Linked DNA regions of Homo sapiens: regions 1, 2 and 3 are each linked to region 4. The links come from fine-mapping of genetic effects on gene expression. A gene starts in region 4. Each other region holds a variant in brackets. All regions are shown on one strand. Distances are between the middles of the regions. Region 1 overlaps ZYG11B (zyg-11 family member B, cell cycle regulator). Region 2 holds the start of LOC124904180 (a long non-coding RNA gene). Region 3 overlaps SCP2 (sterol carrier protein 2). Region 4 holds the start of ECHDC2 (enoyl-CoA hydratase domain containing 2).

Region 1 (5,201 bases), 150 kb after region 4:
ATTCATCAAATAAATGTATCAATTAATTTCCCCAGATTTATCACGCTCCTTTTCAGCACCAAGAGGTTCTGTTTAAAATTAAGTCTTTCTAGGGATTCCCAACATAAAAGTATATTATTTTAAGATAATACGCTTATCTTAAAATGTAGTTCAGGTGCCATTCGGCAACCAAACGTAGGTAGCAGAAAGTGGCTCTTTATAAAAGTAATCCAACTAGTAAGTGAAAAATAAATGATTAAAATATCACCATAATCCCCAATGAATTGATAGATCTAGCTACTAAGTGTCAATAACTGCTAACATCACAGAAAGAGAAACAACTAGATATTTATGTACCTCATAACGTAAGAATACAACACCTAAGGGTCTGGCCAAAGGGATCTAACGTAAGTCTAATTAAGCCTCCAAATCCAGCTACCAATTTGCAGAAAATACAAAGAGAAAGATGCACCATTAGTATACAATCAGCAAAATCCAGGCTGGCAGAGTGGCTTATATCTGTAATCCCAGCACTTTCGGAGGCTGAGGCAGGAGCATCACTTTAACCCCAGGAGTTCCAGACCAGCCTGGGCAACACAGCAAGACCCTGTCTCTACAAAACATCAACAAATACAATAAAATCCAGACTGAGGGAAACTCTACAAATCCAAACGATAGATTATTCAATAAACAAATTATAAGGAAAAGAAAGGGATGAGGAGAAACCTATAAACTAAAAGATACTCAAAAGACATCAAATTGTTTTAAACAGACAAGATTATACAGGTGCCTAAATAGTTGGGTCATAAAATTATAAAGAAATGAAAGGACATGGTTGGGTGTAGTGGCTCGCGCCTGTAATCCCACCACTTTGGGAGGCTGAAGCGAGCTTTGGGGTAGATGACAAAGTTCTGTTACTTAACCTGAGTGATGGTCTCAAGTGTGTTCACTTTATTTTCAACTCATTAAGCTATATAATTATTTACTGCCTTTGTCTCTGTTTTATTTTACAATAAAGTTTTAAAAAATGCCAAAAAACGTCATTCAGAGCGACTATCTCATAATAAGGGGAAGATTTAGTCTTTTTTGGCAGTAACATTATACAGTGTGACACAAAAGTAATCAAATATTTTAAAAATATATTACTCAGTAACTAAGTTGTATATAAACATATAATATTCAGCCAGGCATGATGGCTCATGCCTGTAATCCCAGCACTTTGGGAGGTAGAAGCAGGAGGATCACTTGAGCCCAGGAGTTCAAAACCAGCCTGGGGAACATAGTAAGACCCTGTCTCTATAAAAGAAAAGAAAAATTAGTTACGTGTGATGGTGCATGCCTGTAGTCCCAGCTACTTGGGAGACTGAAGAGGACTGCTTGAGCCCACGAATTTGAGGCTGCAGTAAGCCATGACTGTGCCACAGCACTCCATGATGCGCAACAGAGTGAGACTCTATCAAAAAAAACAAAAAAGCCTATAAACGTTCAGATTGGAATATGCAGCTTTGAGGAAATGAAGGGATGTATCATGGTTGACATTTCAACCATTAATAGGATATGCTACAAGAGTCTGAAATGAATTAGACTACAGTATTGATATATGTCACATGACACAAGGGTACATATGAAGAATTTCTAAGATTGTTGAAATAATAATAAAAGTTTCTTTACTTCCATTACTTTACGTCTTTTCTCTTTTTTTTCCTTTTTTTTGAGATACGGTCTTGCTCTGTCGCCCAGACTGGAGTGCAGTGGCACGATCTCGGCTCACTGCAACCTCTACTTCCCGGGTTCAAGCAATTGTCATGCCTCAGCCTCCTGAGTAGCTGGGATTACAGGCGCCCGCCACCACGCCCGGCTAATTTTTGTATTTTTAGTAGAGACGGGATTTCGTCATGTTGGCCAGGCTGGTCTCGAACTCCTGACCTCAAATGATCAGCCAACCTCGGCCTCCTAAAGTGCTGGGATTACAGGCATGAGCCACCACTTCCAGCCTCCATTACTTTACTTCTTTAAACCCTTTTTAAACTTTCTA[T/G]TTATGTATAACATACATACACAAACTGGTTTGGACTACATATTCACATATACAAATGGGTATTTAATAAAATTTTTCAAAGTGTTCAGTTCATTGAATCACCCAGAACTTTTTCTTATAAATTCAGAAAAAAACAAAAAATGCTGAAATGTGAAATGAAAAAAACTCTAAGAGGGAAATATAAAATAATCTAAATCAGACTTTATTCTTCCTTTACCCACATTTGGTTGGTTCCAACAGCTTTATAAATCTCTTATACGAAATATATCCTCAAGTTACCTTGAATATAAAATTAAAGAACTCTTGTTACTGGAATGTTAAAGACTCTAAGCCAATTTTTTTTTTTTTTTTTTTGAGACACAGTCTTTCTCTATTGCTCAGTCTGGAGTGCAGTGGCACAATCTTGGCTCACTGCAACCTCCACCTCCCAGGTTCAAGTGATTCTCCTGCCTCAGCCTCCTAAGTAACTGGGACAACAGGCATCTGTCACCATGCCCGGCTAAATTTTTTTGTATTTTTAGTAGAGGCAAGGTTTCATCATGTTGGCTAGGCTGGTCTCCAACTCTTGGCCTCAAGTGATCCGCATGTCTTGGCCTCCCAAAGTGCTGGGATTATAGGCGTGCTCTAAGCCAACTTTATTGCATATATATATATATATTTTTTTTTTTAAGACAGAGTTTTGCTCTTGTTGTTCAGGCAGGAAATCAATGGCGCCATCTTGGTTCACCACAACCTCCACCTCCTGGGTTCAAGCAATTCTCCTGCCTCAGCCTCCTAAGTAGCTGGGATTACAGGCATGCGCCACCACGCCCGGCTAATTTTTTTGGGATTTTTAGTAGAGGCGGGGTTTCTCCATGTTCGTCAGGCTGGTCTCCAACTCCTGACATCAGGTGATCCGCCTGCCTCAGCCTCCCAAAGCACTGGGATTACAGGCGTGAGCCACTGCATCCAGACATTGCCTCTATGTTTTATTCAGTGAACAACACTTCTCTACCCAGTGACAAACCCTCACATCTGGCTGCTCAAATTATAAGTATATTCTTTTTTCTCCCAAAGTGCTGGGATTACAGGCGTGAGCCACCACGCCTGGCCGACTAAAGCTATTTTTAAATTAGTCTGTATCTTCTCCACTAGACTAGAATTCCTCAAGAGCAGGGATATTAACAGATATCTTTTTGTTGTTGTTTTTTTGTTTTTGAGACACAGACCCACTCTATCGCCCAGGCTGGAGTGCAGTGCCACAATGCTGGCTCACTATAACCTCCGCCTCCCAGGTTCAAGCAATTCTCCTGCCTCAGCCTCCTGAATAGATGGGATTACAGGCATGTGCCACCATGCCTGGCTAATTTTTGTATTTTTAGTAGAGACGGGGTTTCACCACGTTGGCCAGGCTGGTCTTGAACTCCTGACCTCAAGTGATCCGCCCGCCTTGGCCTCCCAAAGTGCTGGGATTACAGGTGTCAGATGGGGGTCTCACTATGTTGCTCAGGCTAGTCTTGAACTCCTGAGCTCAAGCAATCCTCCCACCTCGGCCTCCCAAAGTGCTGGGATTAAAGGCATGAGCCACCACGCCTGGCCAAAAAACATTTATGTACCTTCACTGCATGTTGATTACTGCAGTTCAATATAGGAGTCTGACTTCAAGGGAGAGCTCTAAGTTAAGACACAAATTTAGGAGTCATCAGCATATAGATTTAAGGACTGAGGTGCAGAACTCTCCAACAGTTAGAAGCCTGGAAGATGAGGAAGAACCAACAAAGGAAATTGAGGCTTAGTAGCAAGACAAGTAGGAAAAAAAAAACAAGACAAGTATGATATCCTGGAAGCTAAGTTAAAAAAAAAAAGGTATCTCAAGGAAGAGGCAAAGATCAATTATGACAAATACCATTTTACTTTGGGTCAAATAAAATGAAGACTAAGAACTAACACTGGGTTTAGCAGATTTTCAATGTTCTCATGAGTTGGGAGCTACAGCATGGTAGATAATCCAAGTATGGGATAAGGTGGCCAACAAATGTAAGAATTCTAGTTCTGGAGAAATGGAAGGTTCAGGAAACTGATGGTAACAGAAGAGAAAACTGAGTAGGGAAATAGTGAGAAGAGAAAATCGAGTGGGGAAATACTGATGACAGAGCTGGAAATTCTATGGTAAGAAAGCCAGGCTAGGCTCAGGGGCTTACACCTATAATCCCAAAACTAGGAGGCCAAGGTGGGAGGATCGCTGAGCAAGAACCCATCTTTACAAAAACACTAAAAAAAAAAAAAAAAAAAAAAAAAATTAGGCCAGGCACAGTGGCTCACGCCTGTAATCCTAGCACTTTAGGAGGCCGAGGCAGGCAGATCACCTGGGTCAGGAGTTCAAGACTAGCCTGGCTAACATGGTAAAACCCCATCTCTACCAAAAATACAAAAATTAGCTGGACATGATAGCAGGCACCTGTAATCCCAGCTACTCAGGAGGCTGAGGCAGGAAATTCGTCAAAACCTGGGAGGTGGAGGTTGCTGTGAGCCGAGATCACGCCATTGCACTCCAGCCTGGGTGACGGAGCTAGACTCCATCTCAAAAAAAAAAAAAAAAAATTAGCCAGTTATGGTGGCACATGCTTGTGGTCCCAGCTACTCAGGAGGCTAAGCCAGGAGGATCCACTCGAGCCCAGGAGGTAGAGGCTGCAGTGAGCCTGTTCATGCCCACTGTACTCCAGCCTGGGTAACAGGGCAAGACCCTGCCTCTGAGGAAAAAAAAAAAAAAAGTTATTGTAAAACAGTGATTCATGAGTTTGGCTGGACACTGCAATCATCTAAGCTTTAAAAAATACTGATGCCTGGGTCTCACCTCTCTTCCTAACGCAGTCTTTGCACGTATTATTCTGTCTGCCTGGAATGCTCTCTACTGAGCTACTCACCCTTAAGATCTCCACTCATCCATCAATTTCTCAGAGAAACCAGGCCGAGGGTGGTGGCTCACTCCTGTAATCCTAGCACTTTGGAAGGCCAAGACAGGCGAACTGCCTGAGCTCAGGAGTTCGAGACTAGCCTTGGCAACATGGTGAACCCCTGTCTCTACTAAAATACAAAAACTTAGCCGGGCATGGTGGTGTGTGCCTATAGTCCCAGCTACTTGGGAGACTGAGGCAGGAGAATCACTTGAACCTGGGAAGCAGAGGTTGTAGTGAGCCAAGATCATACC
Region 2 (5,189 bases), 980 kb before region 4:
AACCCGGGAGGTGGAGGTTGCAGTGAGCCAAGGTCACCCCTCTGCACTCCAGCCTGGGCAACAGAGTGAGAGTCTGTCTCAAAAAAAAAAAAGAAAGAAAGAAACCCAAAAAACAGAGAACAAAAACAACATTCTCTGTCTCTGAGTTTGAAACCAGACCAGGACTGGGCCATCATCTGGGTTCAAAAGGAAGCCGGGAGGATGCAGCTCCAGTCCAAATGCTAGGGACATTCGTGTGCATTATTTCATCCCCCGTGAGGTGGAGACCAACATTCCCATTTTGCAGAAGAGGAAATTGAAGGAACTCCAAGAAGTGAAAGCACTCGCCCATGGTCACATGGCTGGTAAGTGGCTGGGTGGTGATTTGAATCCAGTTCTGCTTGATGCAAAGCCTTCTCTTTGCCCTTGCCCTCCCTGGGCCCCTTTGCCCTCCCTGGGCCCCCTGTCCCCAGGTCACCACCTTGTAGAGGATCCTGCCCTCCTGGATTATGTAGAGCCTCTCAGGCAGTGCTGCGTAGAGCTGGCTGCTCTGGTTCTGCATGGTGTCCACCACCACAGGGCACTGGGGGCTCCTGGCCAGCAGTAGATGGGCTGCCTGCAGGCGATCCTGAAGGTTCTGGTGATTTCTGATGTCCATGTTGTTCTTAAAAGCCCAGCCATCTACAAGAGAAAGGCCAGGCACCGAGTCCCATTGACACAGCACACACTTCCTGCAGACTAAATAGCCCCTCACTTTTAACTGAGGTTCTCAGAGGAGCCCTTGGCAATGATTTGGCCTGGTTTCCCATTATGGTTGAATGTGCAAGGTCACGTCAGGAATTAGTGATTGATCCAGAACTGAAGCCCAGGGCTTCTGTCTGCCAGACCCCTGCTCTTCAACGTGAAATAGTCCAATAAACCAGCACTCCTTGATCTTGAATGTGCATGAATCATTTGGGGACCTTGTTATAGGAAGATTCTGATTCGGTCTGTCGAAGGTGGAACTGAGAGTCCATCTAACTCCCAGGATGCCAAGACTGCTGGCGCCTAGACCATACTTGGAGAGGCAAGGGTTTAGATCAGTAGTTCTCTAAGTGTGTGTCCCCAGACTAACAGCATCAGCGTCACCTGGAAGTTTGTTAAGTAGTGCAAACCCTAGGCGTCAGCGTGGATGGACTAGAAATGGGACCCAGACATCTGCGTTTTAACAGCCTTCCAGATGATTCTAATTCATACTGAGTTTAAGTACTATTTTTTCTCCTAATTCTTCACCACAGTGTTCTTTCAAAAATACAAATATAGGCTGGGTGCAGTGGCTCACGACTGTAATTCCAGCACTTTGGGAGGCCGAGGTGGGCAGATTGTTTGAACCTAGGAGTTTGAGACCAGCCCGAGTAACATGGTGAAACTCTGTTTCTACAAAAAATACAAAAAACTAGCTGGGCATGGTGGCGTATGCCTGCAGTACAGCTACTTGGAAGGCTGAGACAGGAGGATCGATTTAGCCCAGGAGGTTGAGGCTGCAGTGAGCCATGTGAGTGCTATTGCATTCCAGCCCCAGCTCAGGCGACAGAACAAGACCCTATCTCAAAAAAAAAAAAAAAAAAAAATAGCCATAAGGCCGTCATTTCACCTGTGACATTTTGGGTCTGAATTCTTTGTAAATGTGTTCAAATCAGTTCTTCTCCCTTGACTTCCCTATTTATCCGATCAAAATGTTAGAATCCTCTCCTAGCCAGACCCTGTCACTCCAGGTGTTCTGCTCTCTGTACCCTGGTTGAAAGCACAGACTGTGAGGTTAGCCCAGTGCAGGGCCTGGGAGTGGTGGGTGCTCAGTGAATAGTGGCTCTTTCCCTCTCCCCTCCTCTTCCTCCTTCCACCTCCCAACCTTGAGATGGGGCCTGGGGAAAAGGGAGAGAGAAAAGACAGTGGGAAGAGGTAGAAGAGGCAGAGAATCTTTCTGTACCTGATGCATGTGCTTCTTCAATGTAAATGACAAGAAAATCTGCTATGGAACTAAAGTCTTCAATAAGCCTCTTGAACTGGTCAAATTTGAACATAAATGAAGGTCAGGTACAACTTCCAAAATTCAGCACCAGTGGCCTATTACCTGAAACAGCAACAACCATCACAAACTGAGACCCTACACACAGCTTTCTTTTACAAGCACCATTTTCACTCCTA[T/A]GTTCAATTCTGTTATTTTTATTTCCCCCTACCCCCCACCCCAGGATGGGTCCTAGGCACTGGGGTCCGACACCTAGAGAGCATGACTTAGCAGGGGCTGGAGCTGGTTTACTCCTCTCTAAAATGAGAGGTTTTTTTAGGTGGTCTCAGTGGACCACCTGCAGTTGCCGCATAGCAGTTTAAATATAAGAGGAGTCCCTTTCATGCAGTTTATAAGGCAGGTATGCATCCATTCTGTCATGCGATGGGATTAGTAATACTGCAAGGTTGGTCATTTTTTCCCCCCATTTTATAGACAAAGAAACTGAGTTTTACACATTTGCTCCAGGTCACACAGCAGGTCAGTGAGGAGTTAAAATGAACATTCTGGTTTCTGAACTCTCAATTCAGTGCTCTTTCTATTCATAGCACTTCAGTTTCCTCATCCACAAGGGGGGCATAATAATCCTTTGTAGCACTGTTAGGAGGATTAAATAAATTAATAGAGATAAGGGCTTAAACTGGTTACTGGCCCATAGTAGGTGCTTCATAAATATAAGCTGTTGCTATGAGCTTGTATCTCCTCCCTGAGCTATGAAGTAGGGAGGCACCGAAGGCAGCTCCACAAAGAGAGTGAATGCTAGGAGCAGGACCAGCTGCATAATTTGCTGGGCCTGCCGCCAAATGAAAATGCAGGGTTCCTTGTTCAAAAAGTGGGGGAAAGTGCCATTAAATTTATTAAAATATAAAGACGTTTCTTTTTTATTTTTTTGAGATGGAGTCTCACCCAGGCTGGAGTGCAGTGGTGTGATCTCAGCTCACTGCAAACTCCGCCTCCGGGGTTCAAGCGATTCTCCTGCCTCAGCCTCCTGAGTAGCTGGGACTCCAGGTGCACACCACCACACCTGGCTAATTTTTGTATTTTTAGTAGAGACGGGGTTTCACTATGTTGGCCAGGCTGGTCTCAGACTCCTGACCTCAAGTGATCCGCCGGCCTCGGCCTCCCAAAGTGCTGCGATTACAGGCCTGAGCCACCGTGCCCAGCCTGAAATACAAAGACATTTCTAATCTTCTGTAGTCCCTCTCTTGACCTGGCATCGTGTCTTTTAGTTGCTATTTGATGTCATACTCCCCTGGGGTATTCATAGAGTGAGAGCAGATCCTCACAGCTACCCAGCACCCCAGAGACCGAGTGTGTGTGCATTTCCCTTTCCCTCCAGCCACCAGACCAACATGCCATGCCCCGCCCAGCATCACAGAAGTTGAGCCAGACATGGCCCCTTCCCACCTGCCCACCACCCCAACCCACAGGGTATTGCAACCTCTGTAAGGAACATACTAGGTACCTTGATGGGGGAAAGGGTGGGCAAGAGGCTTCCCCCACCCTCAGTCACTTGGCGAATTGCACTATGGCACTGCGAGCCCGGGATGGGGACAGCTGCCATGCAACACTGGGGGACGTGACACCTGACCCCCACCTTCCTCATGTCTGTATCCAGGCCCACTCTGGGGTCAGGAGATGGCAGCAGTCACTGGGTGGAAGCAGGAAGGAGCACCTGGGGATGGGAGAGTGGGCCTTAGAGAACATGTCCTGGAGGGGCAGGGAGGCTGTGGAAGGCAGGAGCCTGTGCAAGCAGAGGCTCCAAGTCCTCAGGGCATGCTCCATTGTCCCGTAGGGTTTCACTTACAAAATGCAGATTCAAAGATAAAATTATGAAGAATTTCAAGACATACTTTACAACTCTGGTGTGCTAAAAACAACAACAGCAACAAAAATTCAAGACAGCTGCTGCAGAACATTAAATCCCAAGGACAAGGCCCTTTTGAGTGTAGGTCCCTGTGTGATTCACTGGTCCCATGTCCATGAAGCCAGCCCTGGGTGGAAGCCTTCTGTAACTCCCCATCCTAGACCAAGGACAACTCTGGGGAGCAGCTGGCCTCCTGTGGTTTCTTACGGCCAGAGCTGACATTGTTGAGCCCTTACCATACATTTATTGGAGCATGGCTAGTCTTGCACTGTGACATGGCCTGTTTAAGTGTCCACATACCCCCAAACCCCCCTACTCATTGTCCCCTGAGGGCAGGGCCTGTTCCTCATTCATCCTCGAATCTCCAGAATGTAGTATACTCTCATCCTATCTACAAATATTTATTCAGCACTTAAAATATGCAAGTCTCCCTGCCACACACTGGGGATTCGGCAGAGAATGAGACCAGCAGCTCTCTGGCTGTGTGCAGTTTGAAGTCTGCTTAGTGGGGAGACAGGCAAAAAAAAGTAAGTAAATGCGTAAATGAAGAAGTTTCAAATTGTGATCAGTGTTACGAGAGAGGCTATAAAGGAGTTACCTATTTTAGACAGGCGGGGCAGGGAAGGCCTTTGAGGAGCTGCCATTTAACCTGAGAAATGAAAAACAGGAGAGAACCAGCCATGGGAAAAGGGAGAAAGGGATTCTAGCCAAAGAGACTCACACAGAGTCCCCAAGGAGGGAGAGAACTTGGTGTGTTCAAGGCCCCACAAAACCACTGGCAGGAACCCGGCATAGAGAGCAACAAGAGAAGGGTTGGAGTGTTAGGGATGGACCAGAGCAGGCAGGCTCCCATAAGCCTTTGTAAAGAATCTGGATTTTATCCTAGGTATGTGGGCTATCATAGGAATATAAAGCAAGGGTGGTGAATATTATTGCATATTTTCTTTTTCATTTTTTTTTTTTTTTGAGAGATGAGATCTTGTTATGTTGCCCAGACTGGAATGCAGTGGCTATTCACAGGTGCCATCATAATACACTACAGCCTTGAACTTCTGGGCTCAAGTGATCCTCCTGCCTCAGCCTTCTGAGTAGCTGGAACTATAGGTGCACTTGACTATATCTGACTTGTTTGTTGCAGTTTTGGCTGCCCAACTCCTAACTCTCCTTCCTACTTAGAATTCCCTATTTTGTATTCTATTTATGAAACAGTGTGCCCAGCCTTGCTCTTTGGAAGACAGAAGGGCCAGGTTCGCACTCTGCCCCTGGCAGCCAGGGCTCAGGCAGTGACCCCAGCTGGGC
Region 3 (5,000 bases), 41 kb before region 4:
ACTACCAGGCTCGGCTAATTTTTTGTATTTTTAGTAGAGACGGGGTTTCACCATGTTGGCCAGGCTGGTCTTGAACTCCTGACCTCAGGATCCGTCCGCCTTGGCCTCCCAAAGTGCTGGGATTACAGGCGTGAGCCACAGCACCCAGCCTTACATTTTTTAAAAATTACATAGCAATATAGGTAAAAAGAATTCATTAAAACAACAAGCATGGCAAAATGTTAATTTTTAGAAAATCTAGAGGAAAAGTATTAGGAATTCTTGTACTATTTTGGCAACATTCTTGTTCAGTCTGAAATTACTTCTAAACAAAATATTTTTAAAGTATATTACAATATACCTCTAAAAATGAAGCATATCATCTTTTAAAATCGACAAACCTGGGCCAGGCACGGTGGCTCACACCTGTAATCCCAGCACTTTGGGAGGCTGAGTTGGGCGGATCACGAGGTCAGGAGATTGAGACCATCCCGGCTAACATGGTGAAACCCCGTCTCTACTAAAAATACAAAAAATGCCATGTGTGGTGGTCGGGTGCCTATAGTCCCAGCTACTCGGGAGGCTGAGGCAGAAGAATGGCGTGAACCCAGGAGGCGGAGCTTGCAGTGAGCCAAGATCATGCCACTGCACTCCAGAGCGAGACTCTGTCTCAAAAAAAAAAAAAAAAAGAGAGAAAAGAAAAAAATTTGACAAACCTTTCAAATGACAACCATAAACAAATTTAATTTCAAATTATAATCTGGCCACATTCATTATCTAATTAAGTAATTTAAAATATTTATGATTTTTAAACAAAAATGCTATTACAATATTCAGTTTTCCTTCCCCTTCACAAAATAGGTCAAAAAAGAAAAAAGGAAAGCCAAGCACAAATGAAAATTTCAAGCAAAACATGTTTCTGTACCTATAATAAATGCTAACAAAAAGTACTTAATGTCCCTCAACTATGTACAGGAATGACAAGAAAACTAAAAGTTAATATACAGTAAAAGCTTTTTATTATTTAAAATTAAATATAGCTATATGAGAAACAATGAAAAGAATGGAGGTTTTATAGTATGGCAGATTTGGGTGTGAAACCCTCTCCTATCACCTATTAGAAGAAGTTACTCAAATTCTCCAAGCTTCAGGTTCCTCATATGAAAAATAGGCATACACTTACCTCTTAAAATAGTTGTTATATTTGGTGTGTAAAATATCTAAGATGTGTGAGGCACGCAACAAAGAGCAGCTACTATTACTGGGAGAAAGGGCTGCGCAAGGGCTTTTGAGTGAGACAGAAATAGAATGGAACATAGGCTCTGCTACTTATTGACCCTATCATCCTGGTCAAAAACTTGTCTGAATATCAGATTCTTCTGGTATAAAATGAGATAATAACACCTCCGATAATGGATTCTTGTGATAGCTGAATAAGATAACATACATATGGAAATTCACTCCTTCATTCAATAAATGTTTCTTGAGTATTTAAATATGCTGCAGACTATAGAAGAGAAAGAAAAAAAAAAAACTTCTTTCTGGTTAAATAACATGCCAAGCTCTGTGCTTGGCTGTGTATATCAAGGTAAACAAAGCAGACATGGACCTGCTTTCGTGGAGTTTATAGACTAATAAGGAAGATGAAAATTAAACAAGTAAAATCACATATGATAAATATATGAACATAAATAGTGCTAAGTGCTATGAAGGAAGCAATATGAAGCTATCTAAGAAAGAGGATAACAGGAGGGGACTACTTTGATTTGAATAGTCATGGAGGGTCTTTCTAAATTTTAAAGATGAATTAATTACACAACACTGATTTGTGCCAGGCACTATTCTTTTTTTTTTTTTTCTTTTATCCTTGGTTTAGCCAGGTACTATTCTAGGTTAACAATCAATGTGCAGGAAATAAGACAAATAAAAATCCATGCTTTTGTTGAACTTATATTCTGGTTGGAAGAGTCAATAAACAAGAATATATATATATATATCATGTTATATGGCACC[T/A]GTAATAATCTGACATATATGTATGTGTCAGATATATGTCAGATTATTATAGGTGCCATATAAAATGATAAAGCAGGAGATAGTGAATAGGAAGTTCTGGGAAGGAGAGTGATGAAAGAAAGCAGAAGGTGGCTTTTAAGCAAAGACCTGATGGAAGCAAGGGAGCTGGCTCTGACAATCTTAGGGTAGAAGCTAAGGCCCTACCTGAAGAAAAGCTTGGTGTGTTTGAGGAACAGAAAGAAAGGATAGTGTGGTTGGAGCAGACTAGTGAAAGAAAAAATGGTCGGAGATACAGTCAGAGAGCTAATGAGGGTGAAGGGAATGATCATGTAGAAGCTCATAGGCCATAAGAAGACATTTGGGTTTCAATCTGAATGTCATGAGAAACAATGGAGAATTTTAAGCACAGGAGTGAAATGATCTGATATATTTTAAAAGCATGGCTCTGGCTATAAAGTAGAGAATTGACTCTGGAGGTGCACAAGCAGAAGTAGAGAAACCAGTTAGAACACTCCTAAATTTCAGGTGCGAAATTATGCCACTACAGCAAAAGTAGCAGAAATGGTGAGAAATGGATAGACTGAGAATATAGAGAAAAGGCTTGCTGATATATTGAATGTAGAGTATGAATAGCTTGATCTTTCACCTCTTCTTGGTTGACATTTTAAGATCCTCAATTTATAGTCCATGGCCAGTCATGGTGGCTCACGCCTGTAATCCCAACACTTTGGGAGGCTGAGACAGGTGGATCACTTGAGCTCAGAGTTTGAGACCAGCCTGGGCAACATGGCAAAAAGCCACCTCTACCAAAAATACAAAAAATTAGCCGAACATGGTGGTGCACATCTGTAGTCCCAGCTATTCGAGAGGCTGGGGTGGAAGGATCGCTTGAGCCTGGGAGATGGAAGTTGCAGTGAGCCGAGATCGCACCACTGCACCCAACCTGCATAACAGAGTGAAACCCTCAGCTTGGAAAAAAATAATTTATAGTCCATGATTAAAGGAGACAAGATTTGTGTTATTTTTCCTATTTCAACTTCCTGCTATAGAGTACTCTAGGTACTTCCCATACCATAGTCTATATATAAATACTTTCTCTATGACTAAGTTCTACAAGAACTATTACTTCGATTTAATTCAAAAAACATTTTACATCTTATATATCCTGGCATCCTCCACAGTTCCTTAATAAATAACTGTCATTTCTCATCTCATGTATATAACTAGTAAGAAGCCTCAAAGTTTTTTAACTGTAACATACCATATTTTTCCATATGTTCTTTTCCAGCATACCCAAACATCTGAGGAGCAACTGGGTGAGCAGACAATCCATACTTATTGATCAGGAGGTCAACATGCTTATCAGTGGGAATGGTTCTATCTGAAAACTAAGAGGGGGGAACAAAATTTCATAAGCAGCTGACATGATAAGTGTCTCTTTCAAAACTACTACAGTGCTATTAAGATATTTATTTATTCTAAGCACATAGTACACCAGAAATTGTCAATGTGAATCAAATCAGTTAAGACATGCTCCACAGGGAAACATGGGAAGAAGAAAAAATAATCAAGTGACCAAAGAGGTATTAACTCTTTCAAGAAATATTTATTGGGCATCCAGTATGTGCCAGTAACTATTCCATCCTGTTGTGGGGTGGGGGTTGGGGGGAGGGATAGCATTAGGAGATATACCTAATGTAAATGACAAGTTAATGGATGCAGCACACCAACATGGCACATGCATACGTATGTAACAAACCTGCACGTTGTGCACATGTACCCTAGAACTTAAAGTATAATTAAAAAAAAAAAAAAAAAAAAAAAGAACCAAAGGAAATAGGCTGGGCGTGGTGGCTCACACCTGTAATCCCAGCACTTTGGGAGGCTGAGACGGGTGGATCACTTGAGCTCAGGAGTTCAAGACCAGCCTGGCCAACATGGTGAACCCTATCTCTACTAAAAATACATAAATTAGCCAGGTGTGGTGGTATGCACCTACAGTCCCAGCTATTCGGGAGGCTGAGGTGGGAGAACTGCTTGAACCCAGGAGGTGAAGATTGCAGTGAGCCGAGATCACACCACTACTGCACTCCAGCCTGGGCGACAGAGTGAGACTCTGTCTTGGGAATGAATAAATAAATAAATATACACACACACACACACACACACACACGCACATAATATATACACACAACACACATATATACATATATATACACATACATATATATACACATATATACATACATATATACACATATATACATACATATATACATATATACATACATATATACATATACATACATATATACATATATATACATACATATATACACATGTATATACATACATATATATACACACATATACACACACACACACACACACACACACACACACACACACATATACATAGTAGCCAGGCATGGTGGGTCATGCCTGTAATCCCAACACTTTGGCAGGCCCAGGTGGAAGGCCCACCTGAGCCCAGGAGTTCGAGACCAGCATGGGCAACATAGCAAGATTCCGTCTCTGCAAAAAATTAGCTGGGCGTGGCTAATTTAAAATAAAGAATAAATTAAACCCAAAGTAAGGAGAAGAAAGGAAACATCAAGAATGAGAGCAGATTGAAATAGAAAATGAGCAGAATGAAAAAGAATGAGTAGAAGTGAGTAGAATAAACTAGAAAAAAGAATATAGGCCAGGCGCCATGGCTCATACCTGTAATCCCAGCAATTTGGGAGGCCAGGCGGGCGGATCACGAGGTCAGGAGTTTGAGGCCAGCCTGGCCAACGTGGTGAAACCCCGTCGCTACTAAAAATAAAAAAATTAGCTGGGCGTGGTGGCAGGCGCCTGTAATCCCAGCTACTCAGGAGGCTGAAGCAGGAGAATTGCTTGAACCCGGGAGGCAGAGGTTGCAGTGAGCTGAGATCATGCCATTGCACTCCAGCCTGGGCGGCAGAGTGAGACTCTGTCTCAAAAAAAAAAAAAAAATTGAAAATCAG
Region 4 (5,171 bases):
GCATGTTTTTAATTTTTGTTATTGTGCTTTGTTTTCATTTTCATTATTTATTTTGAGTAAGTTATACTTAAAACAAAAATCAAGATTCAAAAAGTATAAAAGGGGCCAGGCATGGTGGTTCACACCTGTAATCCCAGCACTTTGGAAGGCCAAGGTGGACAAATCGCCTGAGCTCAGGAGTTCGAGACCAACCTTGGCAACATGGCAAAACCCCGTCTCTACAAGAAATACAAAAATTAGCCAATGTTGTGGCATGTACCTGTGGTCCCAGCTACTCAGGAGGGTGAGGTGGAAGGATCACCTGAGCCCGGGAGGCAGAAGCTGCAGTGAGCCAAGATACTGCCACTGCACTCCAATCTGGGCAACAACAACATCCTGTGTCCAAAAACGTATAACAGGTCAAACCGTAAAACTTGTCTCTCTTACCCTTATTCCCAGCCTCTCGGTTCTTCTTCCCTATCCTTCCAAAGATGTTTTATGTAAATACAATCAAATATACACATGCATACTCTTATCCCCCTTGTTAACACAAATTTTTGTTTTCTTTATTATTTCTTTCAATAGAGGTGGGGTTTTGCTATGTTGGCTAGGTTGGTCTTGAACTCCTGGCCTCAAGCAATCCTCCTGTCTCGGCCTCCCAAAGTGCTAGGTTCATGAGCATGAGCCACCAGACCCGGCCAAATTTTAGCTTTCTTTACACACTATTCTGCATTTTGACTTGTTTCATATACCAATAGATTTTGAAGATTGTTTCATATCAATGCATAAACAGTTTCCTGTGTTTTGTTATAGCTGCATAGTATTCAGATTATTGATGTACCTTTTTTTTTTTTTTAAGTAGAGATAGGGGCTTGCTATATTTCCCAGGCTGGTTTCAAACTCCTGGCTTCCAGGGACCTACCTGCCTTGGCCTTCCAAAGTGTTGGAATAATAGGGTGAGCCACCACACACAGCCCCATAATTTATTTAACCAACCCTCTATTGATGGATATTGAGACTGTGATATAGTTTGGGTGTTGGATCCCTCCAAATCTCACGTTGAAATATGATTCCCAATGTTGGAGGTGGGCCCTGTTGGGAGGTGACTGGATCATGGGGACAGATCCCTTGTGAATGGTTTAGCACCATCCCCTTGGCGATAAACTGGGACCTCCCCACCTAATTTTCTTGTTCCTATTCTCGCCATGTGACATGCTGGATCCCTGTCACCTTCAGCCATGATTGTAAGCTTCCTGAGGCCTCACCAGAAGCACATGACAGCACCATGTGCTTCCAGTCTTTTGCTATTATAAACAATGCTGCAATGTACAGCCATGAACACGTGTCATTTCACAGCTGTGTGGATTTATCTGTAGGTTAAATTTCTAAAATTGGAATTTCTGGGGCAATGAGCTTGTGCATTTATAATTTTGATATAAATTACCAGTTGCTTTTCATTTAAAGACATTCACATCAGCAATGTGAGAGTGCTTTGTATATACTGTGTTTAAGAGAATAATTTTTTTTTTTGGGACGCAGTTTCGCTCATTGCCCAGCCTGGAGTGCAGTGGCGCGATCTCAGCTCACTGAACCTGTGCCTTCCGAGTTCAAGTGATTCTCCTGCCTCAGCCTCCCAAGTAGCTGGGATTACAGGCGCCCGCCACCACGCCCAGCTAATTTTTTTGAATGTTTAACAGAGACAGGGTTTCGTCATGGTGAAACCCTGCCTCTACTAAAAATACAAAAAAAATTAGTTGGGCGTGGTGGCGCGTCCCTGTAATCCCAGCTACTTGGGAGGTTGAGGCAGGAGAATCGCTTGAACCCGGAGGCGGAGGTTACAGTGAGCCAAGATCAAGGCACAGCACTCCAACCTGGGCGACACAGCGAGACTCCGTCTCAAAAAAAAAAAAAAAAAAAAAAAGTGAGGCGCAAATGGGAGGTGAAGCAGTGAGGTTCGCAAGTGTAGACACGCTCAAGGGACTCATTAAATGTCATTTCATTTAAAAAATGAAATTGAGCATATGTGCAAGCAAGGTTCACACACCCCATTTAATCTTCACACCACCACGGGGTAGTCACTATTATCCCCATTTTACAGGATTAAAACACTGACGCTGGGAGGTTGACAGAGTTACACCAAATCACACAGAGGAGCTGGGCTTCCCCCGACCTCCTCCGCTCAAGTCTCCCTGTCCCCGGGAGGTGCGGAAGGAGGCAACAGACGCTTGGCCCATAGGTGGAGCAATTGGCGAAGGCTTCGCCCGACGCCGGAACTGCGAGCTCTCAGCGGGAGCCGAGACGGTGCAGGGCCGGAGAAGCACCTTCACTCCCAGCCTGCGCCCCGATGCTGCGCGTTCTGTGCCTCCTGCGCCCCTGGAGGCCCCTTCGGGCCCGCGGCTGCGCTTCCGACGGGGCGGCCGGGGGCTCAGAGATCCAAGTGCGCGCCCTGGCGGGTCCGGACCAAGGTAAATGTGCAGTTCCGGGGCGGCGCATGACGCGACTGGGACTAGGCCGGAGGCAGCGGGGGACCGGCAGGTGGGCCGCTCAGTGCGTTGAAGGATTCGATCCCCAGTCCCTCCCTCCCAGTTCTAGGCGCCCCAAACCGCTCCAGGCCTGAGAGGTGGGCGGCCGCCTTAGTGGCTCCAGACTCTAGCTGGGGGCGGGGGGCCTCTGGCAACCTCGGTCTCTTCAAAGGCCCTTTGGGGTCTTCCGACTGTGTGGAAGGGGGAGCGGGGTCCGCACGGGTAGGACTGGGCCCCGCGGCCCCCAGGCCAGGAGCGTTTAAGTGCGCGTTCCCCTCCCCCGCCAAGGGTCCTGGCCCGGTTCGGGGGCGGAGGCAGCGGAGCCAGTCCCAGTGCCCAGTGCGGCAGCGGGCAGAGTGAGGAGGGTGCCTCTCCAGCCGCGCGCCCGCCCTGGGCCGCTAGCGAACCTTTGCGTCCTTCTGGCTCCAGGGAAAAGTTCGCTGTTTCTCCGCCTTTTGGCCAAGATCAAGGATAGTATGGAGCGGGGACGAGGGGTGGGGGGCAAAGTTCGCGGGTCACTGGCAGAAAACGCCTCTGATCGCGTGTTGCGTTTTTGTTGTTGTTGTTGTTTGAACTTCTGGAGCATTCAGTGGTGCTGATAACGCTCCTCAGTCCTCTGCTGGTAACCATCAGGGCTAGGCGCTTCTCCTGCCTTGGGTCTCCTCCCCGCATCTCATCCCCTGTCTCCTGCATTTGATACACAGATGGCATTGTACTGTACATTTCGTTGTATTGCTTCTTTTTTTTTTTTAACAAAAGTTTATTCTTAAATGTACAACAGCTCCAAGACAACACTTAATTCCAGCCATAGGTGGCAAAAGATGTTATGGCAGGGAATAGAGAGGTTTAAATACTGATGAAATAAAGGGTCACCATCTCCTTAGGCACAGGGAACAGCTTACTTTTTGCCAGATTTCTTAATTCCACTTGTGGCCAAGGGCCCCTTCCCCGTGGCCTTCCATTTTAGCTCCTCGAGTTTCTTCTGCTCCTCTTTTTGTTTCTGCTTGAAAGCCTTATCTTCCTCGTCCATCTCCTTGGCCTGCATTCTTGGGCTGTTTCAGTGGCTTCTTGCCACCTTCGTGGCCGGACATGGCGCCTGCCGCCCCTTCCCCAGCAGTATTGCTTCCTTTTTACCGGCTTGACAACAAGTTTGAAGCGGGGCTTTGCCATAAAATCCAGTTCCTTGCTCCCTGCTGTTGCCCACTGTTCCCAAGTGTGCATCTACCACCTTCAGTGGACACGGACAGGCCACCTAGAGTCCCACTGCACCACTTGGTGAGAATTTCCTTGAACAGTTAATATTGCTGAACCTTATACCCCCAATCTCATGCTTAGTTCACTACCCAACTGGCAACAGCTCTTAAGACAGTCAAGATTATTCTCCCCACTTTACAGATTAAAAAACTGAGGCACAGAAGGTTAAGTTATTTGAACCAGGTCTGATTTCAAAGCCTGTGTTCTCAACCATTAGGTAATCACTGGCTCTTCTAGTAATTCAGTGACTCAAAATACAGACTTGTACATGTGTAAACACAAAATTATCATGGGTTAAAGACCTTTAGGCTCACTTGCAAATATCGGGAATCATTTTATCCAAAAAAGAATGACAAGGATCAGCAGATTAAGCCTCTGCCCCTGCCAGAGGGCTCAAAGGGCAGGAAAAGGCAGTGAGAGAAGGAGAGACAGAAACCAAGATGACAGTGCAGAGGAGGCATGGGGATGAGATCACACACGGAGCCCTCACAGGGAATGAGTTGGGGTCATTTGATGTTCATATTAGAAGCTGCAGGTTCTGCCTTCCACTGGGGCTGATGGCACAAGAGCACTGTTACATTTTACCTGCTGCCTTTGAGCTTGAGGTTGGGTGGTAAACCATTCTTCACTGTTCTTAGCGGCTTTATTTCTCATAGAGTCATGTGTTGCTTAACAACGGGGCTACATTCTGAGAAATGCATCATTAGGTGATTGTGGTCATTGTGGGAGCATCACAGAGTGCACCTACACAGTCCTAGATGGGGTAGCCTACTGCACACCAAGGCTACATGGTGTATAGCCTGTTGCTCCTAGAATACAAACCTGGACAGCATGGTACCGGGCTGAATACTGTAGGCAACTGTAACACAATGGTAAATGTGTATCTGAACATAGAAAAGGCACAGTAAAAATACAGTCTAAAAGATTTTTTAAATAGTACACCTGTACTGGGCAGTTACCATAAATGGAGCTTGCAGGACTGGAAGCTGCACTGGGTGAGTCAGCGAGTGAATGGTGAGTGAATGTGAAGGCCTAGGACAGCAGGGACTGGTTTGGCACCAGGGACTATTTTCATGAAAGACAGTTTTTCCATGGACTTGCGGGCGGACAGATGGTTTGGGGATGAAACTGTTCCACCTCAGATCATCAGGCATTAGATTCTCATAAGGAGCTCGCAACAACCTAGATTCCTCACATGCACAGTTCACAATAGGGTTCGCACTCCTATGAGATTCTAATGCCACCACTGATCTGATAGGAGGTGGAACTCAGGTGGTAATTCAAGCCATGGGGAGCTGCTGTAAATACAGATGAAGCTGCTCATCTCCTGTTGTGTGGCCCAGTTCCTAGCAGGCCACAGACTGGGATGGGTCCACAGCCCGGGGGTTGGGGACCCCTGGCCTAGGACATTACTGT

What was found. PIP is the estimated chance that this variant, and not a neighbour inherited with it, causes the effect.
Region 1: its variant is fine-mapped to the expression of ECHDC2 in whole blood (TOPMed, PIP above 0.99).
Region 2: its variant is fine-mapped to the expression of ECHDC2 in lymphoblastoid cells (CAP, PIP 0.95).
Region 3: its variant is fine-mapped to the expression of ECHDC2 in anterior cingulate cortex (GTEx, PIP 0.97). The same link has a PIP of 0.9 or more in cerebellum.

The regions. Positions count from the first base shown.
Region 1 is chr1:52,773,701-52,778,901 of GRCh38, reverse strand. The region is part of intron 3 of ZYG11B (zyg-11 family member B, cell cycle regulator); the gene reads right to left. Among named protein-coding and RNA genes, the nearest start is that of ZYG11B, 50 kb to the right of the region's middle. The variant T/G (reference allele first, on the strand shown) is at 2,015.
Region 2 is chr1:53,901,566-53,906,754 of GRCh38, reverse strand. It overlaps DIO1 (iodothyronine deiodinase 1), which reads right to left. Exons shown (of 4, transcript NM_000792.7): 2 at 1,946-2,089; 3 at 461-660. It overlaps LOC124904180 (a long non-coding RNA gene), which reads left to right and starts at 57. Exons shown (of 2, transcript XR_007066095.1): 1 at 57-344. The variant T/A (reference allele first, on the strand shown) is at 2,164.
Region 3 is chr1:52,959,883-52,964,882 of GRCh38, reverse strand. It overlaps SCP2 (sterol carrier protein 2), which reads right to left. Exons shown (of 16, transcript NM_002979.5): 6 at 3,254-3,380. Among named protein-coding and RNA genes, the nearest start is that of SCP2, 35 kb to the right of the region's middle. The variant T/A (reference allele first, on the strand shown) is at 1,993.
Region 4 is chr1:52,918,826-52,923,996 of GRCh38, reverse strand. It overlaps ECHDC2 (enoyl-CoA hydratase domain containing 2), which reads left to right and starts at 2,257. Exons shown (of 10, transcript NM_001198961.2): 1 at 2,257-2,444. The coding sequence starts at 2,324. It also overlaps the pseudogene LOC112268226. RefSeq lists silencers at 2,281-2,510, 2,359-2,537 and an enhancer at 1,872-2,554.